Homo sapiens: one gene and its partners. The protein of the gene in region 4 interacts with the protein of the main gene of each other region in a pairwise test. Each region holds a gene or a part of one and is shown on either strand. Other genes may lie near its edges. The genes, in order: VAPB, TMEM120A, LPAR3 and CYBRD1.

What was found.
Region 1: the proteins of CYBRD1 (region 4) and VAPB interact in binary tests that used the Homo sapiens proteins (3 or more experiments, as listed by UniProt).
Region 2: the proteins of CYBRD1 (region 4) and TMEM120A interact in binary tests that used the Homo sapiens proteins (3 or more experiments, as listed by UniProt).
Region 3: the proteins of CYBRD1 (region 4) and LPAR3 interact in binary tests that used the Homo sapiens proteins (3 or more experiments, as listed by UniProt).

The regions. Positions count from the first base shown.
Region 1 is NC_000020.11:58,392,218-58,399,240, forward strand, and holds part of VAPB (vesicle-associated membrane protein-associated protein B/C), read left to right. Parts: intron 1-7,023. UniProt on the Homo sapiens protein: Endoplasmic reticulum (ER)-anchored protein that mediates the formation of contact sites between the ER and endosomes via interaction with FFAT motif-containing proteins such as STARD3 or WDR44.
Region 2 is NC_000007.14:75,991,594-75,999,137, reverse strand, and holds the start of TMEM120A (transmembrane protein 120A), read left to right. Parts: upstream 1-4,542; 5' UTR 4,543-4,567; coding exon 4,568-4,648; intron 4,649-6,580; coding exon 6,581-6,699; intron 6,700-6,877; coding exon 6,878-6,994; intron 6,995-7,544. Other genes in the region: STYXL1 (serine/threonine/tyrosine-interacting-like protein 1), read left to right, coding at 2,539-2,670. UniProt on the Homo sapiens protein: Multifunctional protein involved in mechanosensation, and plays an essential role in lipid metabolism and adipocyte differentiation. May function as a potential ion channel involved in sensing mechanical stimuli.
Region 3 is NC_000001.11:84,883,194-84,890,216, reverse strand, and holds part of LPAR3 (lysophosphatidic acid receptor 3), read left to right. Parts: intron 1-7,023. UniProt on the Homo sapiens protein: Receptor for lysophosphatidic acid (LPA), a mediator of diverse cellular activities. May play a role in the development of ovarian cancer. Seems to be coupled to the G(i)/G(o) and G(q) families of heteromeric G proteins.
Region 4 is NC_000002.12:171,518,118-171,525,483, reverse strand, and holds the start of CYBRD1 (plasma membrane ascorbate-dependent reductase CYBRD1), read right to left. Parts: upstream 3,011-7,366; 5' UTR 2,939-3,010; coding exon 2,746-2,938; intron 1-2,745. UniProt on the Homo sapiens protein: Plasma membrane reductase that uses cytoplasmic ascorbate as an electron donor to reduce extracellular Fe(3+) into Fe(2+).

The DNA of each region.
Region 1 (7,023 bases), on a different chromosome or scaffold from region 4:
AATGACATGGCTGTTAGTGGCTTTGTAAGTGCATAGTACTATACAGAGATTAGACAACCACTTAACTACTTAAGTGGTTTCATCACTTCTGTACCTGAAAGGTGTGGCAGAGAATAGCGATCATTCTGGCCCTGGATTGGCCAAAGTAATTATGCCAAAGTCACTGGATATTTTTGCTAGGGAAGTGGTCCAAGAGAAGTGGTACCAAATTGTTGAAGGCCTCTGGCTCATAACTTTAGAAGAGACATCTGTGTGTGTTCTTAAATGACGTCATGAGGTGTGTTGTTTGTTTGTTTTAAACTGAATGCTAAGACAGTACAATTAATAGAGACTGAATACCCTGACTTAGAGATAATTCATTTCAGGATGAGAAATGGCACATTTAACTGGTTTCTTCCAGGTTACTCAGGGTGACGACTCTGATTTCTGGTCGTTCACCTAGATGAACCTCTGAGCTAACTTTACTTGAGAAGGTAATAACTAAAATGCCCATTCAAAGGAAAAATTATCTTTTAAATGCAGCCTAAGTTGATCGTATGGGATTGTATATTGTCAGACTCTTTAATCTTGGGAATTTTGTGTGGTATGTTAAATTTAAGGATGTTACAGAAGAAAAAGAATGCAAATTTATATGACTTTATGCAGTTTTATAGGAAGTACTATGCTGCATCATAAATATCAAAAGGAGAAAGCCTGGTGGCTTCCTGAAAGAAGCATGACACAGGAGGATTTGCCTAGACTTAAGGTTGACTTTCATGAGATATTTTTAGTAAGTGAACATTAAGCTCTTTCAGACTAGGGGTATCTTTCTGAGAGAGTAAATGTTTTTGTTTTTTGGCAGGGTCTTGCTCTGTCACCCAGGCTGGAGGGCAGTGGTGCCATCATAGCTCACTGTAGCCTCAAACTCCTGGGCTCAAGAGATCCTCCTGCTTTAGGTTCCCTGGTAGCTAGGACTACAGATGCCACCATTCCTGGCTAATTTTTAAATTTTTTTGTAAAGATAGAGTCTTGCCATGTTGCCCAGGCTGGTCTTGAATTCCTGGCCTCAAGCAGTCCTCCCGCCTCAGCCTTCCAAAGTGCTGGGATTACAGGCATGAGCCACTGCATGCAGCCTAAGTGTGTGTTTTCTTTTATATTTCTTTTTGTCTTTTTCACTAAGTCATAGGAGTTTTTTAAAATTGTCACTCTTTCTGTTGATCTCAGTTCTTCCAAGTCCTAATCGTTTCCTTGCCATCTCCTCACTCTGAGATCCCACTTGTTGTCCAGCTCAAAGAGAGCTTTCCGAATGAGTCACTTTCAAGGCATTATATAGCACTCTTCTTTCATTCCCTTCTCCCTCCCCTTCCATGAGAGTCCATCTGTGGTAAATAGTATGTCATATATTTTTTGGTCGTTCAGGACTCTAGATCATTCCTTACATCCTAGCCCATTCCCCCAGCAATGATACTGTCACATGGAAATGGTCTGTTGAACATCCATCCTCACTAGGTTAAGGTTTGTTTTGTTTTGTTTTGTTTTGTTTTGTTTTTTTTGAGATGGAGTTTGGCTCTTGTTGCTCAGGCTGGAGTGCAATGGCGCGATCTTGGCTCACCGCAACCTCCGCCTCCCGGGTTCAAGCACTTCTCCTGCCTCAGCCTCCCGAGTAGCTGGGATTACAGGCATGCGCCACCATGCCCGGCTAATTTTGTACTTTCAATAGAGACAGGGTTTCTCCCTGTTGGTCAGGCTGGTCTCGAACTCCCGACCTCAGGTGATCCACCCACCTCGGCCTCCCAAAGTGCTGGGATGATAGGTGTGCGCCACTGCACCCAGCCGGTTAAGGTTTAAACATAACTGTGGATGCATTTACTTTTGCTTTATTGCTTGACTGAACCAATGACCTTCAAGAAGTCTTAGATAGTCCTGCCATTAGTAGGGATCTCAGATGGGAGGGCACCAATGAATCAGTGTAGTTGAGTACCACTTTTGGGAGAAAATAGAAACTTGGACACTCTAAATGATAGTTTAAGGACGTTGTTTGTTTTGTTTTGTTTTTTGTATGGGAAAAGTTGGCTTAGACTCTTTAGTTCAGCCCTTCAAGTTGATGTGTAATTTAAGATTGTTTAGGAAGTTAAAAAATCTAAAGCCCTGTGGATATAGTTCATTCAGTGCAGTAATTATCTTTCAGATGCCAAGTACAGCATTAATTCTTTAGCTTTAGCATGGCACTGATTTTCTTAACACTTCATGATCACGTGGAGCAGACTGTGCTTTACAGCACAACAGAGCGTCAGCCATGTGCTGAAGATTCTTCGTGGTAGTGGTTTAGATCCACCCTGAATAGATTATCTTCATTTATTTAATTATTAAGTAGCTTGCTTATCAAAAGCGGCATTAAACTTACTAAACTTGAGTCAAACGTAAATCTTCATAGATAGTACCATTTACTTCTGAAATCTTGTTCCTGGGAGAAAAATGTGGACTGGAAGTTAACTTTCTTTTATCCACCTATTCACTCCTTTTTCTTCACAGTTAACTCCTTAGGGGAAAAAATGTATAGTTCTTGACCATGTGCTTATGTTTGTAAAGCAATGATGTTTCCTTAACGTGAGTGGTTGTGACATAGATCACTGTTATCTTCATAATTACCTGGGAGCTTTTCATCCAAGTGTGGATTTACTAAAATAATTAGTCTGAATTGATGCTTATTAAAGAGCTGAACTCTTAAACGTTAACACTATCTTGTATTTATTAAAATTGTATGCATGTTTCCTTCAAATGCTGAAGGCAGAATACTGAGAACTTTGACCCTGTGTTATTATCGCTAAGTAGTTGAAAATTAGGGGAGGAGTCAAGGGAGTATATTATATTGGTTATCACTCAAATACTACCCCTAGGCATGATTTTTAGAACCGAAACTTGAATTTTTACATAAAGAATTATCTCCAAAAGTGTCTTTTTTTTTTTTTTTTTTGAGATGGAGTCTTGCTCTGTTGCCAGGCTGGAGTGCAATGGCACTATCTCGGCTCACTGCAACCTCCGCCTCCTGGGTTCAAACGATTCTCCTGCCTCAGCCTCCCGAGTAGCTGGGACTACAGGCACATGCCACCATGCCTAGCTAATTTTTGTATTTTTAATAGAGACGGGGTTTCACCATGTTGGCCAGATGGTCTCGATCTCTTGACCTCGTGATCCGCCCACCTCGGCCTCCCAAAGTGCTGGGATTACAGACATGAGCCTCTGCGCCAGGCCAAGAGTGTCTTATATATCCCCACTTTTTTGAAAAATTTGCTGTCTAAAGGATGATCATGATTTGGGACGAATGAGCACAGCTTTCAACTAGATGACAAGAAAGATGAATACAAAGAGTGCTGAGTTCCATTAGTCAAGACAAGGTTGCCATAGAATGTCTTTAATAAAATAAAACAAAAGCCTTTTGCGTTATTTTGCACCGAGGATTGTGTTAAAAACAAAGTTGCATTATGGTTTCCAGATTGGCATCCTTGTTTTTTTCTATCATTTTAGGCCCCTTTCAGGCTGTTATCAGCATAGCATATCCAGGATTGCTTTGGCCTTGCTCAGTGGGTATGTGCGTTCTTTGAAGTTCTTACCTGACAGATGTGGGCAGCTGGCTTTACACAAGGAAGAGTTGTTTAAAGAGCTTTGGTATGGAAACAAAGTTACTAAACTTGACAGTCACTTGAGGATTATTTAAAAAACAAACAAAATAACTGAATGTGGTAAAATACTATCTCTAGAATATTTTTCAAACTGTTAAATGCATCCTTTTAACAGAAGCTGTTGATGTCTACAAACACTGTCTTTGTAGACAAAGACAAACCCCCCTTGCATGGGGGTTTGGGGGTTGGGAAGCAGTTGAGAAAATGGCATAGTCCCGTGAGAAAACCTTGGAATACTTTCTTTTAATAACATTTTTTTATTGCATAGAACTGTAAAGCTACAGAAATGCTTTCTTGGAGTTTTCCTTCATCCTTTCAGAAGGGCTAATATTGACCTTTGGTTAGCATGTTAGTATTTTCACCTGTGTCAAGTGATGTCTTCACGCTTTTGGGGGGTGTGTGTGTGCATGCCCACCTCGTGTTGTGTAGGGCACATTGGCCGATACCTATAATGTGTTTCAATTACTACATTGTTGGCATTTCAGTAGGCTCCTTCAGCCTTTGCCCATCTGGGAAGTGGAGACTAGGGCAATAAATGTTTTAGGGGTAGATTGAGACTGCAGTGTTTTTCATCTTTTAGCTTGTACTTTAAGACAATGGGATGTACCCCTAGACCATTTACCTAGATTTAAATTACTTCCTTGTGATGTGGTTTAGAGCTCTAAGTTCCTTGAGTTGTCTTGAAAGGCTGAAGGGTGCTCAGAGAATGGAGGGGAATTGAAAATGGAACCTAAGGATCTGGGAGTGGTCATATGTGTGAGTGGTGAAATGTGCCCCCCAACACCCCGTTGGGTCGGGTCTGGAGTTAAAAGCAGTGGCTGACATACATTTTGCAATATAAGGGTAAAGAAAGGTAAAGAAGGAACAAACATTTCTAGAGGATAAATGCTTTAATTCCAGAAGATAGGCCACACAGTTTAGGAACTGTGGTAAGAGGTGCTTTGCCATATTTATGTTACTGTTTAATCTGTGTAACAATCGTATGAGATGACTTAGTCAGTGGCTAGGTAACTTTCTGCTGGATGAGGCTGCACTAGTAAATGGTGGCACAGGCAAAGCCTTGTACTTTCCCTCATACCAGTATCAGCTCATTAGAGTTAACTCATAAAGGGGTTTGTTCTTGAGAGAGGGAGGCAGAGAATTTAAAACCATTAATGAAGTATTAATAGCTGTCAGGACAATTTCTTAAGAACATCAATTCATTAAGAGTTATTCTCTGAATTTTTTAGGAGGGATTTCTTGCCCTACTTTTGAAAAAGTTCAGACAGATGACTCCAAAGAATGTTTGATTTCTCTTGTGAATATTCACTTTTATATCAGATTCTGATGGTTTCTTGATTCTATATATTTAGAAAGCATTCGGCCGGGCATGGTGGCTCATGCCTGTAATCCCAGCACGTTGGGAGGCTGAGGCAGGCAGATCAACTGAGGTCAGGAGTTCGAGACCAGCCTGACCAACATGGAGAAACCCCATCTCTACTAAAAATACAAAATTAGCCGGGCATGGTAGCGCATGCCTGTAATCCCAGCTACTTGGGAGGCTGAGGCAGGAGAATCGCTTGAACCTGGAAGACGGAGGTTGCGGTGAGCCGAGATCCCGCCATCGCACTCCAGCCTGGGCAACAAGAGCAAAACTCTGTCTCAAAAAAAAAAAAAAACAAAACACATTAACTTGTGGGTAATTTGTCCTTCTGCTATCCAGTCTTTGGAAGGCAGGGCAAAGCTTGTGTGTGGTAGAGATTTCATAGGCTTGCAGGTTTGTAGAGTGGGAATTCAAGAAGTTGTAAAGGGCACTTATTAAGATAGGAATGTCTAAAATAAATGATCTTTAGCAGTGCCACCTTAAACTTTGTAAGTGTTGCTACAAAACCTTTAGTTCTGCATGCTCCTGACCAGCCATTGCCTTGGACAGAGAAACAAATAAGGGTGAGTTAATAAACTAGAGACTTGTCTCAATTGTTCAAAGAGGTAAACTTAAGGTGATTAAAAAGTGCTGTTTTATTCTGTATGAGATACACTTTGGGAAGTCGTCATTTTCCAAGACGATGATACGCCAGGCATACGAATTGGATCAGAAAGGATTTAGAGACATGCATGGATATAATGATCTCTTACAGATGTTCCTCACCTTACAGCGGAGTTACATCCTCAGAAACCCATTGTCAGTTGAAAATATTATAAGTTGAAAACATATTAGATACAGCTTAACCTACCCAACATCATAGCCTTGTCTACCTTAAACATACTCAGAACCCTTAAGTTAGCCTCCAGTTGCACAAAGTCATCTAGCACAAAGCCTATTGTATGATAAAGTATTGAATATCTCATGTACTGCATATTACTAGCCTGGGAAGAGATCAAAATTCAAAATATGTCAAAATTATGATGGCTTCACACCATTGTAAAATTGAAAAATCGCAAGTCAAACCAATCGGGGATTGTCTGTACATAAGAGATGATTGTCCAAATTAGAGCTGTTTTGGGTTTCTGCCCTTTGCAGATCCTTTGAGGTTTTCTTTATAGACAGATGACTCCTTCTGGGGGAATTGAGCGTGACTCTGATTGAGATTTGGTTCAGTTACCACATACTGAAAGCTTCCTGTGGGCCAGGCACTAGGTTGCACTGGGGACCTGGGAGGAAGGCCTAGCCCTTAAAGTTTCCAGCCTCTAGGTATTGGGAGACGAGGGAAAATGGGGACAAGATATTTATGGCCTGTCCTTATTGAGAGCTTAGAAAAAGCTGTGTTAATTCTGCTTTGGGTGTTCGATCTCACAGGGAAGATGGCATTTGAGATATGTGACTTGGCGAGCTTACACTGTGCGCTTGCCATTTTTCTAAGCGTTCATTTATTTAATTCTTAATGCAAGCCTAGGAAGTGGGTACAGTTATGATCCTGAAGTTATTAACCCAAGTTATGAACCTGACTGAGGGTTGGAGCTGGGATTTGAATCAAGATCTGTCTGATTGCAAAGGCTATGGCTTTTTTTTTTTTTGTCGTCATGCTGGCTGTGTTTCTTCCCTTAAAAGATAAGTGGGAGTGTGCCCTTGGCTTTCTTATTTATTATGTTAGGAAGATGAGAGGAGGAGTGAGACTAGAGAAAGAGGCTTGAAAGAGAAATGGGATAGAAAAATAAAGGAAAAGGCTGGGCACAGTGGCTCACACCTGTAATCCCAGCACTTTGGGAGTCTGAGGTGGGTGGATCACCTGAGGTCAGGAGTTCGAGACCAGCGTGACCAACATAGTGAAACCCCATCTCTACTAAAAATACAAAAGTTAGCCGGGCGTGGTGGTGCATGCCTGTAATCCAGGTACTGGGGAGGCTGAGGCAGGAGAACCGCTTCAGCTGGGGAGGTGGAGGTTGC
Region 2 (7,544 bases), on a different chromosome or scaffold from region 4:
GAGACGGAGTCTCGCTCTGTCACCCAGGCTGGAGTACAGTAGCACAATCTCGACTCACTGCAAGCTCTGCCTCCCGGGCTCATGCCATTCTTCTGCCTCAGCCTCCCGAGTAACTGGGACTACAGGCATCTGCCACCACTCAATTTCTTTAATATATGTAGGCCTATTCAGATTGTCTGTTTCTTCTTGTGTGAGTTTTGGCAGTCTGTGTCTTTCAAGGAATTGATCAATCACATTTGTGGATATGAATATTCTTCTATTATCCTTTTAATGTCTGTGGGATCTGTAGCAATGTCTTCTCTTTCACTTCTGTATTAGTAATTTGTGTCTTCTGTTTAAGTTAGCCTGGCTAGCGGTGTATCGATTTTATTGATCTTTTCAAAGAACCGGCTTTTGGTTTTTTTGATTTTCTCTATTGATTTCCTGTTTTCAATTTCATTCTTTGCATGGCGTATCTAGTTTTCCTAGCACCATTTGTTGAAATGACTGTCCTTTTCCCCCATCGAATGGTCTTGGCATACTATCAAAAATTCCTTGACAGGCCCGGTGCAGTGGCTCACACCTGTAATCCCAGCAGGTTGGGAGGCAGAGGTGGGCAGATCACCTGAGGTCAGGAGTTTGAGACCAGCCTGGCTGACATGGCAAAACCTCGTCTCTGCTAAAAATACAAAAATGAGCCAGGCGTGGTGGCACATGCCTGTAATCCCAGTTACTTGGGAGGCTGAGGCACAAGGATCACTTGAACCCAGGAGGCGGAGGTTGCAGTAAGCTGAGATTGCACAATTGCACTCCAGCCTGGGCAACAGAGTGAGACTCAGTCTCAAAAAAAAAAAAAATTGCTTGACCATATAGGTAAGGGTTTATTTCTAGGCTAGGCTGGCTATTCTATTCCACTAGTCTCTTTGTCTTCATGTCCATACCATACTGTTTTGATTACTGTAGTTTTGTTAGACTAAGGTTTGAAATCAGGAAGTGTGAGACCTACAACTTTGTTCTTCTTAAATATTTTTTATGGGGTCCTTTGAGATTCCATATGAATTTTAGGATGGATTTTTCTATTTCTACAAAAAATGTTGTTGGGATTTTGATAGGGATTGCCTTAAACCTGTGGATTACTTTGAGTTGTATTGGCATCTTAATAATATTAAGCTTTCCAACCCATGAACACAGGATGTCTTTTCATTTGTTTGTACCTTTAATTTCTTTCAGCACTGTTTTGGAGTTTTCAGTGTACAAGTCTTTTGCCTCCTTGGTTAAATATTTTATTCTTTTTGATGCTACTGTAAATGGAATTGTTTTCTTAATTTCCTTTTTGAATTGTTTAGTATATAGACATGCAACTAATTTTTGCATGTTGGTTTTGTATCCTGCATCCTTGCTGAATTTATTAGCTGTGTGTGTGTGTTGTGTGTGTGTGTAATCTTTAGGGTTTTCTACATATGAAATCATGTCATCTTCAAACCAGAGGTAAGGTTACTTCTTCCTATCCATTGTAGATGCCTTTTATTTCTTTTTCTTGCCTCATTGTTCTGGCTAGGACTTCTAGGACTATGTTGAACAGAAGTGATGAAAGCAAGCACCCTTGCCTTGTTCCCGATCTTAGAGGAAAAACTTTATCTTTCGCCATTGAGTGTGATGTTAGCTGTGGGCTTCTCATATATGGCCTTTATCAGGTTGACATCACTTCCTTCCTTTTTTGTTTTTGAGACAGAGTCTTGCTCTGTCACCCAGGCTGGAGTGCAGTGGTGCAATCTCGGCTCACTGCAACCTCCGCCTCCCAGGTTCAAGCAATTTTCCTGCCTCAGCCACCCAAGTAGCTGGGATTACAGGCATGTGCCACCATACTTGGCTAATTTTTGCATTTTTTTAGTAGAGACAGGGTTTCGCCACATTGGCCAGGCTAGTCTCGAACTCCTGACCTCAGGTGATCCACCCGTCTCGGCCCCCCAAAGTGCCAGGATTACAGGCATGAGCCACTGTGCCTGGCCATTTCCTTCTGTTCCTAGTTTTAGGCACCACTCTTGCCTTTCCCTTTTTCGTTTGTCCTCAATCCAGATGGAGACCAGGTGCTCACCCTCCTTCATGCAGCAACACTTCCTGTACTTTAAGGTGGATGCCTGAAGGAGGGCAGCTTGAATTTTCTTCTTCAGAGAATTTGCCCACAGTTCTCTTCCTCTTTCCATTAATTTGTCCAGTCACAATGCAAACCTTTGTTGAGACTGCACTAGGCTTGGCATAGTGTTTGCCATCCACAGGTGGTTTCATGTATATTGTCTTAATCTTCCCAGAAGCTGTTTGAAATAGGAATTATTTCTGTCACCAGATTTAGAAGCAGAGGGGCTTGCCCAAGGCAGAGTCAGCTCCCATGACTCCCAGCACTGATGCATTCATGCCAGGCTGCCCTGTTTCTGCATCCAGCCCTTAAGCCGTGTTGCTGGCACTGTGCAAGTGCCTCCTGTCTCTGAAAGCTGCCTCTGATCCAAGTGGAAAGGGCCCAGGACCAATCGTGAAGTTCACTTTCTCTCTTTGTATTCATAGAGGTCCTGGGCCTATGTCAAGAAGTGCAAAAACAACATGTGTCCAAATCGGGGATTGGTGAGCCAGCTGCTGGAATGGGAGAAGACTATCCTTGGAGATTCCATCACAAACATCATGGATCCGCTCTACTGATCTTCTCCGAGGCCCACCGAAGGGTACTGAAGAGCCTCACCTGGGGGCATTTTGTGGGTGGAGGGCCAGAGTGTGTATACCCAGGCTTGTCTGGAAGGAGAAGGCCTTTGCTGCCTGAAAGTCTCATGTTAGCCTCCTGTACTGATTCTTCCCAAGTGCCTGTTCACGCCACCTAGCTGATGCGCCCTGCTCAGGTTCACCAAGAACCCGCATCCCTGAGGTGTCGCGGGCCATCCCAACTGCACCCCTGAGGCTGCCTCTGGAAGAGCATCTGGCTGCTAGAGCAGCTGCCCTGCATCCCCCTGGTGACTTAGACCCTTTGGAGGCTGCCTGGGGGTACCCAGAGGTTGCCTGTGTTGGTTCACAGAGGATGTCACAATAGCCACCAATAGGCAGTCCCCTAGTCCCAGAGATACCAAGCCCAGCCTTGTCTAGCCCCCAGGCTCCTAGAATGGGATCACACCCTTGCCTCATCCCCAGCGCTTCCTGCCATCCACCCCTTGAAACAGATTTTCTTTCCCTGCTCCCCACTCATTTCTGCCTGGCTGTGTTCACCAAGGAGAGATTCTCACCCCCTCCCCCATCTCCCTATCCACGTTTCTAGAAATTCCTAAGGTCTTAAAAGTTTTCCTTTTTTTTACCCCCTTTCCTTTTTTTTGGAGGCACGGTCTTGCTGTGTCTCTCAGGCTGGAGTGCAGTGGCGCAATCATGGCTCACTGCAGCCTCAACTTCCCTGGGCTCAAGCGATCCTCCCACCTCAACCTCCTGAGTGAGTAGCTGGGAATGCAGGCATGCACCATCACACCTGGCTAATTTATTTTTATTTTTGTAGAAACAGGGTCTTGCTCTGTTGCCTAGGCTGGTCTCGAACTTCTGGGCTCAAGTGATCCTCCAGCCTCGGCCTCCCCAAAATGCTGGGATTACAGGTGTGGGCCACGGCACCCAGTTGGAAGTTGTTTTCCAAATGCACTTCTCCAAAGCTGGCAGCACCCACAGAACAAACTGGGCATCAGGAGACGGCACAGACTAGGGGACTGGTAGGGGATTAGGATGTCCATCCATGCAGGACCTTCCCCAAGTCCATTCGGCAACCATTCCCTGCCACCGCGTGGGTGGGGCTGGGAACAGAGAGATGAATGCCGTCCCACCACTTAGCGCGCTCTGTGGAGGGATGGGGGTGGGAGGGGGTGGGGGATTCCCCTCAACAGAAGGGCAGGCCTTCAAGGAGGAGTGGGGTTTTGCCAGAGGGGGAACGGCTTTACACACAGCCCTGGCTTTCCTCAGGGTGTGAGTTGGGACAGAGCCCGGGATGGCTGCAGAGCTCCGATTAGGGACCTCCTGGTAGGCAGGACACAGCCGCTGGAAAGTTTTAAGCATGAACATGATGGGGAATCAGCCTTGTGTTTTGGGAAGGGCAGTCCGGTGGCCGCGAGAAGGGACAGTGGAGGTGAGGCAGGGAGAAAGGAGGCCGCTGTAAAAATCCAAGCGAGAGAAGCAGCTCTAACTCCCTTCCCCAAAGAGGCTCAGCTTCCCAAGGACGAAAATGTTGCAAGCAGGTGTCACCTCCCTGCACCTTGGTTTGCTCTCAGCATGACGGGCCAGAGCCCTGCTGGCTGCACCACGCGGCTGGCACAGTCAGTGCAGTCCAGGCCCGGGGGCTGCAGCCGTCCCAGTCCCGGTCCAGGCCGCGAGTCCCGGGGCTAGCAACCGCCCTTGCATACGGCCCCGCCCATACCCCGCCCCTGTCCCGGATTGGCTGGGGTGGGGGGCGTGGCCTTTCCCCATTGGTGCCCGTGGCGGCGCGAGCCCGGAAGCGGACGGGGGCGGTGGCGGAGGAGCCTCGGGTGGGCCGGGGTTGCTGCGCCGTCCTCCACTACTGGCTACTGGCGCTGCAGCCATGCAGCCCCCGCCCCCGGGCCCGCTGGGCGACTGCCTGCGGGACTGGGAGGATCTACAGCAGGACTTCCAGAACATCCAGGTTAGCGCCGCTGCGGACGCCGGGTCGCCCCCGAGCCGCGTCTCGCTGGCTCAGGGTCAAGGGTCGGGCAGCCCTGGGTCAGGCAGTGGGGAGCTAAGGGTCAGGGGTCGGGGCCCTGGCGTCACTGCCAAGGGGGGCGAGGCCCCTGGTCCTGGTGTCCACTGCCACCACCTCCAGTGTCCGGGAACCCCGGCGGGACCCCATCGCGCTGGGCGACCTCGGCTTCCAATGAGGGCCTTGGAAAGGGGCCCAGACCCCGACCCCGTCCCTTCCCAGAAGAGAGCGGCCGCCTGAGTCACACACGGGCGGGCCCAGCCTTGGGTCAGCCACTCAGCAAACGCGCAGCGGGCAGCGCCCGAGAGGCAGCCCAGGTCGGGGGAGCAGCGTTTAGGGGGGTGTCCTCGGCCTGGATGGGGGACGCCCCAGGCAGAGGGATACCGCGCGCCGCCGAGGCCTTTGGAAGGAAAGAGGGGACTTGACAGGCCCATGTGGCTGCATCAAGGAGAACCAGGGGAGGGGTGGGACGGGTGGGAGGGGTGGGCGGGGCTAGGCCCTGCAGGGACGCTCTGGCCTGGCAGAGATCAGAGTCCCTCCGAGGCCAGTGGAAAGCTACGGGAGGAATTGTCTGGACTGAGCTCCCCAGGGCCACCGTGGCTGTTCTGTCCAGAGGCCAGGGAGGAGGAGGCTGTTGGCCTCATCCAGGCAGGGAAGAGGGCGGTGGCTGTGGGTGGGCAGAAGTGGCACGTGCTGGGGTCCGAGGGGGCGTGGTGACCCCTCCTGGGCATGAGAAACAAGATCCAGACAGAGTAGAGCCCTGGCCAGCTGATGGCTTGGTTAGCCCTTGGCCTCTCCTGGACTGGTTCCAACTGCTTCCTGTGGGCATTGAAACCCAGCTGCCCCTGGCCCTGCCAAGGCCCCTGCCATTGGTGCTTCTCCCCAGAGACTGAGCAGACCCAGTCTCCCCGCCTGGCCGCCGCTGTCCTGGCCACAGCCCCTGCTTGGCTCTCCTCACACTGCCCCTTGCCCCATCTCTAGGCTGCGCCTTCTTGAGACTCACCTACCAGGGCAAAGTGCTTGGGGAATCCTTGGGCCAAAGGTGCTAGGGGAAGGGAGTGGGGCTGGCCTTAGAGCAGGAGGCTCTAGGGTTGAAACCTGATGACCTTTAACCTGGGAAGAAGATGTCAGGGATTCCTGAGAACCTGAGCTCCTCCTGTACTGGAAGGCTAGATAGGCAGGAGGAGCTGAGAGGATAGAGGGGTGGCTCTGGGCTGCCTGCTTGGTCCAGGAGGTGGCCCTGGGGGCCTAAGCTCCAGACTCAAGGTAGGAGAAAGAGTCTGTCCTTGTAGGGTGGGGACAACTAGCAGATGGGCTGAGACTAAGAAAACCTTGGCTGGGTGCGGTGGCTTATGCCTGTAATCCCAGCACTTTGGGAGGCCGAGGCAGGCAGATCACCTGAGGTCAGGAGTTCAAGACCAGCCTGGCCAACATGGTGAAACCCTGTCTCTACAAAAATACAAAAATTAGCCAGGCATGATGGCAGGTGCCTGTAATCCTAGCTACTTGGGAGGCTGAGGCAGAAGAATGGTTTGAACCCGGGAGGCGGAGGTTGGAGTGAGCTGAGATCCTGCCATTGCACTTCAGCCTGGGCAACAGAACAAGACTGTCTCAAAACAAAAACAAAAACAAAAACACCTAGTCTGTTTTTGGAGGAGGGGTGCTGTGGGGGTCTCTGGGCTCACAGGAGGACACCCAGGTCCTTGCCTGCCTTGGGGAGACAGCCACCTCATCCCTGGGCAGGCACAGTTCTACCTCCTTTCCCGCTGAGCGAAACCCTCCCAGCAGCCCTGGGGGAGCCTGAGCGCCACGTCCTGCCTGCAGGCTCTGGCTCAGTAGCTCCCCAACTGGCCTGAGCCTCTCCCCTCCGGCCCCCAGGAGACCCATCGGCTCTACCGCCTGAAGCTGGAGGAGCTGACCAAACTTCAGAACAATTGCACCAGCTCCATCACGCGGCAGAAGAAGCGGCTCCAGGAGCTGGCCCTCGCCCTGAAGAAGTTAGGATCCCCTACCCCACCCGCCATGGGCAGAGTGTGGGGTGGGAGGGCTGGCGCTGTGAGACCCTGGGCACCGCCCCTCCCCTCTCTGGGCCCTGTTTGCCCTTCTGCCCCTGTGGGAGTCAGGGAGGACACTTGGGAGTCCTCTTGCCCTGACTGTTTCTGGCCTTACCCGCAGATGCAAACCCTCCCTCCCAGCAGAGGCCGAGGGGGCCGCACAGGAGCTGGAGAACCAGATGAAAGAGCGCCAAGGCCTCTTCTTTGACATGGAGGCCTATTTGCCTAAGAAGAATGGGTGAGGGCCCCCACCGCCACCCCCAGCTCAGTTCACAGCCACTCCTGAAGCCGGGTGCTGCCTCCTCTTGGTCATTATAGTCAGCAAATGTTCCCTGGGCCCAGTACAGGCTGAGCAATGAGGCACAGTGCTGACTTCAGGGGAGACACCTGGCTGAGAGTGACATTTCACTGTGATAGGTGCTTTGTAGCATGGGGAATGAGGTGGCACAGTGAGGGACACCTGACCCAGTCCAGGAGGTCGCAGAAGGCTTCCTGGATTAGGGGATGGGTGGGCTGAGTCTTACAGAATAAAGAGTGGGCCGGGCGTGGTGGCTCTCACCTGTAATCTCAGCACTCTGGGAGATGGAGGTGGGAGGATCACTTGAACTCAGGAGTTCAAGACCAGCCTGGGTGACATACTGAGACCCTATGTCTCTATTTATTTAAAAAGAACAAATAGGCTGGGCGCGGTGGCTCATGCCTGTAATCCCAGCACTTTTTTGGGAAGCCAAGGCAGATCGCTTGAGGTCGGGAGTTCAAGACCCGCCTGGGCAACATGGTAAAACCCA
Region 3 (7,023 bases), on a different chromosome or scaffold from region 4:
TCCTCCTGCAGGTACTGAGCCTCCCCCTTTCCGGCCTTGATGATCCTTTGTTCCTCATCCTGGATTCTGTATTTGTGGAGGAGTCACCTGGAACTCAGTCCTGCTGTGGATGGCAGAGGTGGTGATGGGGCTGGGGAGCTATCTGCATAAGTGCAGAGACTTTGTGCTTTTACAAACGGTGGACTAGAGGTACTTGGAGCACAGGGTTCTGTCTTTGAATCCTAGTCCCACTTTTGTGAGTTCTTGTGACCCTGAATAGATTGTCATGTTTAAGTTTTTTTCATTTATATAGTGGGGATAATAATTACTTTTCTACCTGTCTACATGGATTGTTAATGAGTTCCATTAACTTATGTACGTGAAAGAGCTTTGTACCCTGTGAAGAGTGCATAAACATTGGAATTAAAGAGGCAGGACATCCAGATGTGGGCCACCCCAGGCAGGCCCACTCAGCTCTGGCTATTGGGGGTTGGCAGTATCTCCACAAGCATGTTTTGAGTGCTAAGGGGGCACTGCTGCAGTTCTTCCATATTCCTCTCTCCCGTCCTCTGACATCATACTGGACTTCGAGGAGGAAATAGCATCAAAGGTTGAGAAACTGCTCTGTGGGGAATATGAGAGGAAGTTAAATTTCAGGACTGAGGTTACCCAACACTACATGATCGAAGGCATAGGGCAAAGTTCCAAAGAAGCTTTAATTTCGTGTTGGAATTACCTGTACTGTCTGCGCATCTCAGTTCTTAGTGGACAAACACAAACAGCTGGCCACCACCCATCCCACAGGTCAGGAGGAGGGTGCTGATGGCAATGTTGGACAATGTATTGGGTCCACCTATACCATCCTCACTCCCCTGTGCCTTCTTGCTGACTTGGGTCTCTAGTTTACTCTGCAAAGTTCTAAACTGACCAAAGGCATTGCTCCCCCACCCCCAAATTAAGCTAATTACTTAATTCAGTCTGAAAGATATTTGTTGCTCTCTACCTGTCCTGGCAAGCCAGCTGGAGGGTGGGGGAGGGGATTTAGTACCATTGAGGGGAAGGTTCTGACATCCTGGGTTATACCCACCCCTCTCTTCATCACCCCCAGTCTTATGTCCTCCTCTTTATTCCTCTTCCTTGGCTGGCCTCTTGTCCTGTGTATCTACAACCTTGAACTCCTCCCTTGCCCATGACCCCTGATACTGCCCTACTCCCATGATTCTGTCACCCCTCTTCAGATGTGAATCATTTGTACACCTCAGGCTGGGCCAGACTGGGTGTCACTGTGGAAAGCAACCTGCCCAGCACAGCCTGCCCCACCCCTTCCTGAGGATGTTCATCAACCCCTCTAATTACTCATCAGCTAGTCCTGTGTCTACATTGTTCCCTGGGACATTAAGCTGGAGCTTCTACTAGCCCTGGCCTTGACTCACCCATGTGCAGATTGACCAGTTATCAAGGGATGGCTTGGCAGGTGGCAGGGCTGGGTTGGAGGGCACATTAGCCCCTCCATAAGTGCACTATTTGGTCCAAAGGCCTTCCAAGCAAACATGCGGTCTAAATAAAAGCAGTGTATTTGCTTTATAAATGCAGCTTTAAGGCAAGCCCCTGGTCTCCCCTTTTAAGCCAAGCTATCCCGAAGCACATCCTCTGTAGAAATTCTGGAGCTGCCCCCAGACAGACTCAGACCATGTAATTCAAAGATAGGCAGCGGAGTCTATCAGCAGCATTCACTCCCTAAGGAGGTAGAAAGCCAGAGTTAAGACTCAAAGCCATTGGCAGTGACTAGTTATAGAAAACCAAAGCAAGGGATCAAGTATAGAATTTATTGGGAGCACATCAGTGAATCATTTACCTCCTGCCCTGTTTGATTTTTAGTAAGTCAGTTCGTCGAATGGGGGTAAGGAAGGCCTTTCTCTGGACAAAAACTATCACATGGGTCTGGTGAAGAGAAAATAAGTAGTATAATCTTTTTCTATGTCTCCATGGCATTAGGTTTGAAATCTCAATCTCTCCCTCTCTCTCCCTCCCTCCTTCTCTCTGTCTCTGCCTCTCTCTGTGTGTGTGTGTGTGTGTGTGTGTGTGTATGTATGTATATATATATATATAAAATATACATCATCAGTCTTTATTCTGAGAGGAAGTCATAGACATTATTCTCCATCACTCTTGAAAACACTCCAGCATAAAAAAAAAAGCAAGCACTCTGTCCTCCTATATAACCAGCGTACACCCATCAAATCAGGAAATGGACATTGATACAAAACACTATCATCCAATCCACAGAGCCCATTCCTATTTCGTCAGTTATCCCCCAAATGTCTCTTCTACCTGTCTGATCTAGGATTCATGTTACATTTAGTTACCATGTCTCTTCTGGAACGGTTCCTCAGACTTTCCCTGTTCCTAAAGTGTTTGCAGTTGTATAGGTCCTACATGCTGTAGGATGACTCCCAACCTGGCTGTATTGGGTATTTCTTCACAGCCTGACTGAGGTCATGCATTCTTGGCAGGAATCCTTCAGAAATGAAACTCAGCTCTTCTTAGCTTCTTACAACAGAAGGCACATGGTGCCAACCCATCCCACTGCTGGGATATTGACCTCAATCACCTGGTTATGTTGGTGTTTGCCAGATTTCTTCACCTTAAATTCGCCATTTTTCCTTCGTTTCCCTTTGTTTCCCCAAAGGTGTTTGAAAACACCTTTGTACTAGTGTTTGTGGGGAACTATTCTAGGGTTATGCAAATAGCCTGTTCCTCATTAAACCTGTACCTACAGAAACTACCATTTATTGATGACGTCTGCCTGAATCAGCCACCTCTATGAATGTTGCCAAATGGTGATTCTTTTTTTTTTTTTTTAAGACAAGGTCTCACTCTGTTGCCATGCTGGAGTGCAGTGGCATGATCTTGGCTCACTGCAGCCCCAACCTCCTGGGCTCAAGTGATCCTCCTGCCTCAGCCCCCCAAGTTGCTGGAACTACAAGTGCACACTACCACACCTGGCTTATTTTTTTTTTTTTGTATTTTTTGTAGAGATGGAGTTGGTTTCACCATGGTGCCCAAGCTGGTCTCGAAATCCTGAGCTCAAGTGATCCACCTGCCTTGGCCTCCCAAAGTGCTGGGATTACAGGCATGAGCCCCTGCACCCAGCCTCAAGTGATGATTCTTTATCACCGTCACTCTTTCTACATTTGTTAGTTGGCATACTACTATAAGGAAGAACTTTATTTTTCTGTTATGTTTTTACTAAGAACTGTTCATGGATTCCTTATGTATTCAATAAGTTGAAGTCTCACGATTGTTTTTTATTTTAATGCTCAAATTGTGCTCAATTTGGCCAATGGGGACCCCTTGGAGCTGCCTCCTGTGTCCTTTTAACACATCCCTATTATTCATTGAGCATTTCTTTATTTTCTGGCTCCACCAGATCATCTGGACTCATCTTCTACTTTCCTTGACCTAGTTAGGCCTCCCTTTTAGTAGAGAATGGTACTTTTGTCTTATTTATATTTTATATATTTAAGGCATACAACATGATATTTTCATGTATTTATCTTGATAAACATAGATGTAATGAAGTAATTACTACAGTCAAGCAAATTGACATGCCCATCATAGTTACCTTTCTTGTGTTTGTGATAAGAGTACCTAAAATCTACTCTCTTGGCAAATTAGCAGAATACAATATTTATTAATTTTAATTTTTTTAGAGACAGGGTCTTGCTCTGTACTACAGGCTGGAGTGCAGTGGCGTGATCATAGTTCACTGCAGCCTCTAACTCCTAGGTTTGAGCAGTCCTCCTATCTCAGCCTCCCAAGTAGCTAGGACTCCAGGTGCTCACCACCATTCCCGGCTAATTTAAAAAATATTTTTTAGAGGAGGGGTCTTGCTGTGTTGCCCAGGCTGGCCTCCAACTCCAGCCTTGAATCATCCTCCTGCCTTGGCATCCCAGGTGCTGGGATTACAGGTATGAGCTACCATGCTCAGCCTCAATACAGTATTAGTAACTGTAGTCCTTGTGTTGTACATTAGTGGAAACAGGGAAAAACAGAAGATGTAGATTAAAAGGTACGAAGTTGCAGTTATGTAGGATGAATAAGTCTTGAGATCTAATATGCAATATGAGAATTGTATTTAGACACCAATACATAGGAGGTTGATGTGCCCATTGTTACTGGGGTATTATTGCTTCTAGATCTCTCAGAGGACAGAGCTAGGAAATATATGTGTATATGTGTACACACATTTATAAATTTTTCTATATTAGGCTGTGTATTATAAAATCATGATTCATACTTATACCTACAATTTCAATCTAACACCCAAAGAGCTTTCTGTTCTTCCCCCTTTATATGTTTGTACATATCTTCTCTGGCAGTTAGAAAACCTGACTCTCATTATCTTCAATATTTTTGCTTATTTGCATACAGTAACCAGTCTTACAAATGTGAAGGTCATCCTGCCTCCTCTGTGTCCACCACCTTTGCCACTGCCTCTTGTCCTCGGCTGCCAGGCCTGCTAGCCTGTGTCTCTATGTAGCTTAATCATCAGTCTCCAGTCCCTCTAGCTCACAGCTCTTCCCAGCCATAGCTCATGTCTCTATGTACCTCCCCAAACTCCCCAGCCTCACGTTGCATTCCCAGCTACATGCTGATTGCTGTGTTCTGGGGAAGGAAGAAAAGAGAAGGGAAAGGAAGAAAGAAAATAGGAATGGAAGGAAAGCAAAGAGGAATAGTGTATATATTTTAAAGTCTCATTAGATATTGCCAAATTGCCTTCCCCCAAAGTTCTATCAGTTTACATTCTCACCAACATGTTATGAGGGTACTATTTTCCCCACATTCTTGCCAACACTTGTTGGCAAGTAATAGCCGCTTGTTTAAATGTTATCAATCTGATAGCACTCCAGTTTTAGCTCTATTACAGCTCTGCCACACTTAACCCTGTATTATATGTCTCATCTCACCCTCTAGGTCAGGATTTCTCAACCTTAGCACCACTGACATTTTGGACCGGATACTTCTCTGTTGTGGAGAGCTGGCCTGTGCATTGTAGCGTGTGCAGCAGCATTCCTGGCCTCTGCCCGGTAGATGCCAATAGTACCCCCCTCCCCCAAGTCATGACTGATGCAGATGTCTCCAGATATTGCTAGGAATCCCTGGGAGGAGGAGAGGATTGGCCCTGGCTGCTCTAGATAATGAGTTTCCTGGGGGAATTTTGCATCTTTACACATGTCTTCATGCACTTCTGTCTTTGACGTACATATGCTGAACAGTGAGAGAACGTTAGCTGGACAGGGATGAGAGGAATAAAAGGTTAGGTGGAATCCACTACAACAGGACCAGTGGAACTTGTTCACTGCAAGTATGCAACTTTCCACAAATGCAAATTCCAGGAACATCCAACAGAGGGAAGTGAAGAGGAATGTCAGCAAGGTTAACTTTCCATGGATTGCTACCAGGTTATTACTTGTCTTTCTGAGTTCATTTTTGCCCCAGTTTCGTACAGACAGACAATGAGGTCTGTGGCCTATTTCAGCTGATATACTCTGTTTTGTTGATGGGGAAAGTAAAATGCTTTAGGAGAAGGTGTTAACATCATTTAACATTGTAGAGGTAAACTGAGTTTCTTCTGAGCTTTCTCTGAAACAGGCAAACTGACTAATGGTTGCTAATTTCTATGATGCATTTAGAGTTTTACTGTGATATTTTCATTTGATTATATAGATTTTCCTCCATAAACTCTTACCAAAAACTCTAAGGAGAGATGTGCTTCAAGATTTTTATTGACATTTACCACAATCATTATGTTAGAAATGCAAAATGCTTGTTCCCCGGTGCCACAAAGAAATAGCGCTTGAACATAAATTTAATTCTCTCAGCAAGGCAATTTTTACTTTCTGCGGAAAGGGTATACTCACCAGCAGTCTTGCCACGAGAGTACACCAAACAAAGGAAAAGCAGACATATTTATCCCTTACACATTTGGGTTGTCCTCACTGCTGTGTCCTGCATCCACTGGCTGGAGCCGAACCTCACAGTCTAAACTGATACCCGATTTGCTAAGAGCCTAAAACTTTTTTAGATAGGTAAAGGCAAGGGAGAACAAAGGAAAAGAGGAAGTTGCTTTTGAAAAATTTAAAGAAGTAATAACATTTCCAAATAAGAAAGGGGCATAGGCTGTGAGCTGGAACATGCCTGTGAGCATGTCCAACAGCTACATGCTTAACAAAGAGTTATTAGCACAAAGCAAGGAGGCTTGAAGAAAAATTTTAAAAGAAACTATTATTTCTAACATTTATGATTTATTATTTAACAAGAAGGGAAACTTTGAAGAGGAAACTTTTTACTTTCTGCAATTATATTTCTTCTAGATTCAGTAAATGTTTGCAAAAGGCATTAATGTCATTATGGAGAACAAATCTACGTCTTACATTTCTCTGGGGGTCAGGTGGCAGAGACTGCTTCCAAAAAGAGGCTCCAGTGGTCAGTATTGTTTAAAAAAAAAAAAAACAAAAAAATCCCTGGGCCAGAAGGATGAGGGCTGGTCAGGGTGAATCAGTCCCCAATTTCTACATTTCTTCTCTGTAAAATGGAGAATGCTGAACTGCCCATCTCACTGTGGGATCAAATGGGGAAAGAGATGTAAACTTTGAAATTTGTTCACTAGTATATCAGTGAATGTGTTTTGGTGGATTACTCCAAGATCCTGAAGGAGTGGTTTAGAGGAAGTATGGTAACATAGTAAGAATGTTAAACATTAGGTTTTCAACCCAGCTGGCTAAACCCCTCTTTCCTGATTGTACACATTCATCTGGGACTCTGGGACTAAAAGGTAATGAAAAACACCAGCTAGTGACTCTCTGACTAGATTGGTAGAAGAGAGAAGGCTTTGGCTTTAGGGTGTTATTGTGGTGACCCACCCAGTGTGAGGGAAAGGATTCTTCCTTTGGTCTCCTCTTCCCAATATTCTCTGTTGGGGTCCCTTTTCCCCAGCCTTTTGGGAACAAGCTCACCGTGGAGCTCAGTGGACTTTCTCTG
Region 4 (7,366 bases):
CCACTGGAGCCTTCCTAATACTTAGGGTGAGGAATGTGGATGGGTTGGCCAAGATATGGAAGAACTGGGGAGAACTATACATGTGCCTACATGTATGAAAACATTTATGCTCATGTCAATTAAATGCATTATGATTAAAGTGATTTGCACATCCAGGATCCAAACAGGAAACAGGATGAGTAATGACGGGACAAACTCTGGACCATTGATACAAATACAGTAATTGAACCTAAAGAAAACAAGATCGGCCGGGTACTGTGGCTCACGTCTGTAATCTCAGCAGTCTGGGGGGCCGAGGTAGGCGGATCACTTGAGGTCAGGAATTCGAGGCCAGCCTGGCCAACATGGTGAAACCCCGTCTCTACTAAAAATACAAAAATTAGCTGGGCGTGGTGGTAGGCATCTGTAATCCCAGCTACTGGGGAGGCTGGGGCAGGAGAATTGCTTGAACCTGGGAGGTGGAGGTTGCAGTGAGCCAAGATTGCGCCACTGCACTCCAGCCTGGGCGACAGAGCAAGACTACGTCTTGAAAGAAAGAAAAAAAGAAACAAGATTTTCGTAAGAGCAGCAGATGAAAATTGCCAAAATTTACACATTTTTGTCCAAGAGTTAAGTATGAACAGATTAAGAGAAGTACAAAGTTTAGAGAAATTTAAAAACCTTTTAGAAAACCGTATATTGGACTCTAACATGAATGAAGAGTTTCAAAACATATTTTAGATGAAGGTTTTCGCTGTCTAAAAAGATTTGGCAGAAAATAAGCATATTGCCATAAAAGCAGAGAATCCAACTTTGACGATAAGGTCACTGAAAAGACTTAAAACAACTTTCATGGGTAAGTTACATAACTTCTCTGCCTCAGTTTACTCTTACATACATGTGATGTGACATAATGCACTTAGTGGACACACAGCATGCAATCACTATTAGCCATTCTGATGTCTTCTCCTCTGTGGCAAGTCAGGCAACGAGCAATAACACTTGTGTTTCCCTTACCCTCAATTATGAGAAGATATTCCAAGACCTCCAGAAAGCTTTTTGGTATTAGAAGCTGCTCTGAAGAGTTGGGTAGAAGAGGAGACTGGCTCTACTCTTTGAGCAAACAAGGTGTAGACAGCTCGGGGCCAAACTTAAGGGCTCCACCACGAAGGAAAGAGTGCTTCTGACAGTTACTTTGGAACTTGAGTATGTTTTTTTCTTATAAGCATAGTGGCAAAATAACTGAGAGTTACGCAACGAAATGCCTTAGGTGCCCAGTGGTGCTCACACCCTGATGCCGATCTCACACCCTGATGCCGATCTCACACCAGGGAAGCCTTTGAATGCTGAGGGTTAGTAACACCTTCCACTACATTCCAGAGTGGGAGAATGCTGGCCACACTTGCCAAAGCTGCAGTACAAGTTTAAAACAACCAACAAAAACAAAAGCCAAAATCACTTTTCTTTAGGAATGAGGTCAGCACTCTTTTGCACACTCGTTTGTGGGGAGTTAAATATTTGGTGAAGAAAAGGCAGCCTGCCCGCAGGCAAAGCTAGAGATTTCGGCCAGTGGGCATATCTTTCCAAACCCTTGCTACTCCTCTCGATTATTTTCTGCGACATAACACCACTCCACCCCTTGCTGCCTTTCTCTAACTACTTTCTGAAGGCCGTGCCTTTGGGGAAGTGGTTACAAATAAATGGTGTTTGCGCCAAAAGCTAGAGGTTCCTCCAGCTACACGGCAAACCGAAGGAAGCAGTCAGGACATTGAGAGGCACTACACAATGACAACAAACATTGCCAGCGACTGCTGAGCCCCTCCCCCGCGCCAGCCTCAGCCCAGAGAATGCAGGCCCGGGGCTGGCTCGCCGCGGGCCAAACACGGACGCAGCTTGCGCCGGGGGCATCCCGAGCAGAGGCATCCCTCGGTGCCAGGCAGCCGCGGGCCCTCTCCGGGCATCTCCCACCCGGAGTGCTGGGCCAGTGCCCAATAGGAAGCCCCGCGGGGGAACTTTCGCCACTCTTCTGCCACATAAACAAGTCGGGCTCAAGACCGTCCAATGACTGGGCAGGGCGGCGAAACACACTTGGAAGTCCTGGCAGCTTCCCGGACTCGACTGAGTTTAACACTCTAGGAGGAGAGGAACCCAGGGCGGATGCTTCACTCGCCCCCCTTGGCCAGCCCCTTTACCCAGGGCCGAGGATGTTACAAATACGGGCAAATTCTCGCTCCGGCAATCTTTTCCCCGCTGCCTTCCCCTCCTCATCTGCAGCCTGGAAGCAAGTTCAGCAAAAGGCTGAGGCGAAAGTGTTTCCGCGCCCCCGATCGCGCAGGCTCGGTCCACAGGGGCGACTTTCCGGGGCGCGTGGGCTGCAGCGGCCCGACTGCGCGGCGCTCCGGCATCGCGCCCGGGCTCAAGTTTCTGGGTCTTGGAGGCCCCTCCAGTGCGTCCTAGCCAGTCGCCGCAAAGAGTTAACCAAGTGGGGCCGGCCCCGCTCCGCCGCCCCCAGCAGCGCGTCTCCACCGCGCACCCCCGGCCCCGCGCTCGCGGCGATCCTCCTGAACCGCAGCTCTGTCCCGCCCCAGAGCCAGCCAGCCTCCCTCCCGCCCAGCCGACTTGGCTTCCCGCGCGCTCCTCACCGCACTCCTCCGGGCCCCGCGATCCTCCAGCACTTCCTCAGCTGGAAGGGGCTTCACGGAGGACCCTCTGCCCCCGCCGTTCTCCCCGCTTTCCTCCCCGCACCCCCCCAGGAGGTGCCAGTACCGATGCCCTGGATGAAGACGAAGCCGGTGACCATGAGCACTGGGTGCCAGTTAAACTCTAGTGCGCTCCCATCCCAGCCAAGCCCCTCTCGGTAGTGGAGGACCCAGACGAGGGCGAAGATCACCGACAGGAAGCCGACGAGCAGTGCCGACCCCAGCAGCGCCAGGAAGCGCCAGTAGCCCTCCATGGCCATCAGCGCCCCATACTCCGCACCGCGGGGGCCACAAGAACTTGGAGAGGCGGCGGCAGCCCTCTGGGTAGTGGCCGGGCGGCGGGACCGGGGCGTCGACTTCTTGGGGCTGTCTCCGCCTGCGGGGAGGGACTTTCTGGGCTGCTGGCCCGGAATGTGGGGCCTCTTGGGGGTGGGGAGCTGGCCCCAACTCAGAAATGGGCCCCACCCCCGGGATCACGCGGCCGCCGAGGGCGCTCATTGCCTGGTGGCCTCACCCTCTCCCTCGTCCAGCATCCAAGCTCGCAGAGGGCTTCAGTAACAGACCTAGTTAGTTGCTCAAAGAGAAAATTCCGAGGATTTTATACTCACCACTTGCTTTTAACACTTCCCGTGTCTCGTCCTTATTTGTGGGGAGGTTGAGTAGGGCAGTGGTGCGCCCTCTTGGTTAAGAGAAGAGAGGGATCCGTTGGGTAGGGTTATGTGTGTGCTTTTAACTACTAACGAAGCCTCCTTAGCCACAGTGCTGGAGAATTGGCTGTCTCTGACATCAAAGGGTGTTAAGGAGGAACCTGTAAGGTGGTGTAAACTAAAAATAAAATCCTAAGCCCCTCACTGACTGAATGGACCTCCTTGGCCAAGCAGACCCCAGAAAAACCTTAAAGCTGAGTTTCTAGCTACAGCCGGAAGGGAAGTCTACCCCCTCCATTTTGGAATTTAGACTCAACAGCTGACTAGCATTAATGTTTAAAATAGAAATCATAAGGCGGACAGAACAGACTCTTTGTAGCAATAAGACATCAAATTATAAAAAGGACCTAAGTCACACACTCCTACACTTAAGAAATAAACTATGGTCTAACTGCCACAAAGGTTTTCTTTTCCTCTAGAGGCTAAACAAGCACTGGCTTGAGATAAGCAATATTAAAACAATTACAACTTAATCAGTTCACAGATGCTGACCAGCTGAACCCCTGTTGCACCAGCCAGAACTACAGCTTTCACTGGGCTGATTTCAGGAACTTTTTCATGATAAGAAGACCGACCATGGACCGGTTCTGGCCAGTGTACAGGGATTGTGCACTTGTATGCATTCACGTCCTGAAAAGACCTTTTGAAGTGTAGGTTTGAAGTAATACATTTAAATGTATTTGAAGTAATACAATTAAATGTTAAGTCTCCACCCCAAAGAGAACATGTTACATGCATGTTTGTTCAATATGCATGTGTAAGGACCACCTCCATTAATATTCATAGCTCCTCCTGTAACCTGTTACGTATGTATGTTTGGCCAAACTGTTCAGCATAAAGCTCCTACCCCAACCCCTCTGCCTTCCAAGTGCCTGTCTCTGGTCTTAGGCCAGAGGCTATGTTTATCAGCCTATGGAATGGCCTCCTTGCAGGCTATAACCTTTTATAAGAAATAAAGTCTCCTCTTTTTTCAAATTTATAATTTTTTGTTTTAAGTTAACAGTAAAGGCCAGGCGCAGTGCCTCACACCTGTAATCTTAGCACTTTGGGAGGCTAAGGCGGGCAGATCACTTGAGTCCAGGAGTTTGAGAACAGCCTGGGCAACAAGGTGAAACCCTGTCTCTACTGAAAATACAAATGCATGCACCTGTAGCCCCAGCTACTTGGGGGACTGAGGAAGGAGGATCACTTGAGCCCAGAAGGTCGAGGCTGCAGTGAGCTGAGGTTGCACCACTGCACTTCAGCTTGGGTGACAAAGTGAGACTCTGTCTCAAAAAAAAACAAAAAACAAAAAACAAAAAAAACCCAGTAAACCGGGTCCCCATGAGGTGTCTCACAGCTGTAATCCCAGGGCTTTGGGAGGTGGAGGCAAGAGAATCACTTGAGCTCAGGAGAGGTATGATCGCACCACTGCACTGCAGCCTGGTGACAGCTAGACTCTGTCTGGAAACAAAACAAAAACAGCATGGGCAGCGGTGGGCTTGGCCTTATCCTGCAATGAAACTACTTGCAGTTTGCTCTTGAGAGAGGGAAGACAGGAACCTCCTGGACCTGGACTTGCCGTTTAGTGTGACAAATGGATTTTCAAAGTGCCCGCCCACCCAAACCAATTTGAACCAAAGCCCCTCCTTGATGAAGTGAAGCTTGCTCCCTGCCCTCTTTCCAACATTATCCTCACCCTTCTCCACTGGACAAAAACAATGTCAGCATTATCTAATGCTATTATAAGAAAAAGGGTTCTGACTGCCAGGGCTTCCAGAATGCATTTGGGAACGTTCACTTCTAGCCCTCTTCTGTAGCTCATCTCCAAGGACTACTTTGCTATATTGTCTTGTTGCCGTCTTGAAAGACCTTAGAATGTGCAGGAAGTATACGGGGATGATTTTCAAAGCAGGCTAAGGAAATAGGAGTGGCAAGCCATGGTAGTAGGGCAGGATTAAGGGCTCAGAGTAAAAGGCTGTAGACCTCACCTGTGTCATTATTTTTCCCTTGGTGGGGAGAGTAAGCAAATGGAAGAGAAGGATACCTTTCCCCAGCACAAGGCTTTCTTTGATCTGGTCCAGCCTAGCACCCCCTGCCAGTCTCTTACCACAACCTGACTGGCCCTGATGTCCTTGGCTGTAAACTGCTCTGGCAGCTTCTGACCACTTCCTACCCACGCCACTGCCTCTAAATTTCCCTGACCCCCATCTCCACTGAGAAACCTTCCCTGAGTCTGCCCCTGCCCAGACTTTTATATCCCACTGACCTCCCCATCCAGTGCCTCCTTGTGTCACCTGTCAGGATGTAATATAAGGATCTGCTTCTCTGGCTGTCTCCACTCTCAGACTGCCCTATTGAAGGCATTGATTCTCTAATTGATCATTTTATTCCTCCTTGGGATGTGGTAGTTACTCAATAAACATGTGTTGGGAGGCTAATGAGACTGAGTGTGTTAATCAGGGTCCTGGCAGAAAACAAACAGCATATTGGAATTGAGTAATTTCATAATGAACAAGACTGTTTATGAAGTTGTGGGCAGTGTAGGAAACCTCAGGGTTAGGCAGTGCCCCAGGTCTGAAGGGCAGAGAATTACTGGAATCCAGAGAGAAAATTGTGCGGAGGGGGAAGTCCGATAGAGGCCTTGAGTACAGGGATGCAGCCAGCCTGCAGAGACCTCATAGGGAGAAAGATGGAAGCAGATAAATATTCCAGCCTTACTCTTCTCCCCTCTGATCTTCTGCCTAGGGTGTCCCAGGGGCTAACCAGAACCTAATCAGAAGCCACAGGGCAGTCCATGTATCCATCCCAGGTCAACTTAGGGCACAGAGCAGAAGAGAGAAGAGTGAGAGCGGATCCCTAGGAATAAAAGGAAACTATCCCTGAATCTTCCGGTTTTATTTTTTCAGACCTTTTTTTGGTTCCTGAGTGCTGCAAACATTGCCTGTTTCATCTTACACTGATTCTTTTCCTTTGCGAACTTTAGCTTGTAATTCTATAATGACATCATTGTATCCCTATCCCTCTCCCTAAAAGTATCTAGTCTTTGTCCTCAATTAATGTTTTCACCCCATTGACCTAACACCTTCACTCCACTCTTGAGTTAATTTTGCTTCATAGCAGCAGCAGATGAGAATCTCTGGGATTCCAGACCCCATTTAACAAAACATTTCGGGAGGATGAAAACATGGCCAAATGGTACCAATGGTGTTGAATCATCTTGAAGTTATATGTAAAACTGAGAGAATTTCAACTTTTAAATTATCTTTTAAGAACCTAACTTTGATATTAAATAAAACTGTCACTGAGAAGGGGAAATTTTTCAATAAACATTGTTGTGGCTTACTGTTAACCTTTTAATTAATTAATTAATTATTTTTCTTTTTGAGACAGGGTCCCACTCTGTCACCCAGATTGGAGTGCAGTGGCATGATCTTGGCTCACTGCAGCCTCCACCTCCTGGACTCACCCTCCTGCCTCAGCCTCCCAAGTAGCTGGGACCACAGGCGTGTGTCACCATGCCTGGCTAATTTTTGTATGTTTGGTAGAAAGGGGGTTTCATCATGTTGCTCAGGCTGGTCTCAAACTCCTGAGCTCAGGAGATCCACCTGCCTTGGCGGCCCAAAGTGCTGGCATTATAGGCATGAGCCACCACCCCTGCCTGTGAACTTTTTTAAAACAGAGTTGTTAAATGATAGAAGTTTCCCTCTGGAGATTGTAAGCAGTTTGTCACCAAAGTACCTAATCAGACTCAATAACCTGTCAGCAATGCTGTTGGGTGATTCCTGATGTAGCAGGTGGGGGAGAGCATTGAAGAAGATGGCCTTCCTAAAAACCTAGAAGCTGGCCGGGCGCAGTGGCTCACGCCTGTAATCCCAGCACTTTGGGAGGCCAAGGCGGGCAGATCTTGAGGTCAGGAGATCGAGACCATCCTGGCTAACACGGTGAAACCCTGTCTCTACTAAAAATACAAAAAATTGGCCAGACGTGGTGGCAGGCACC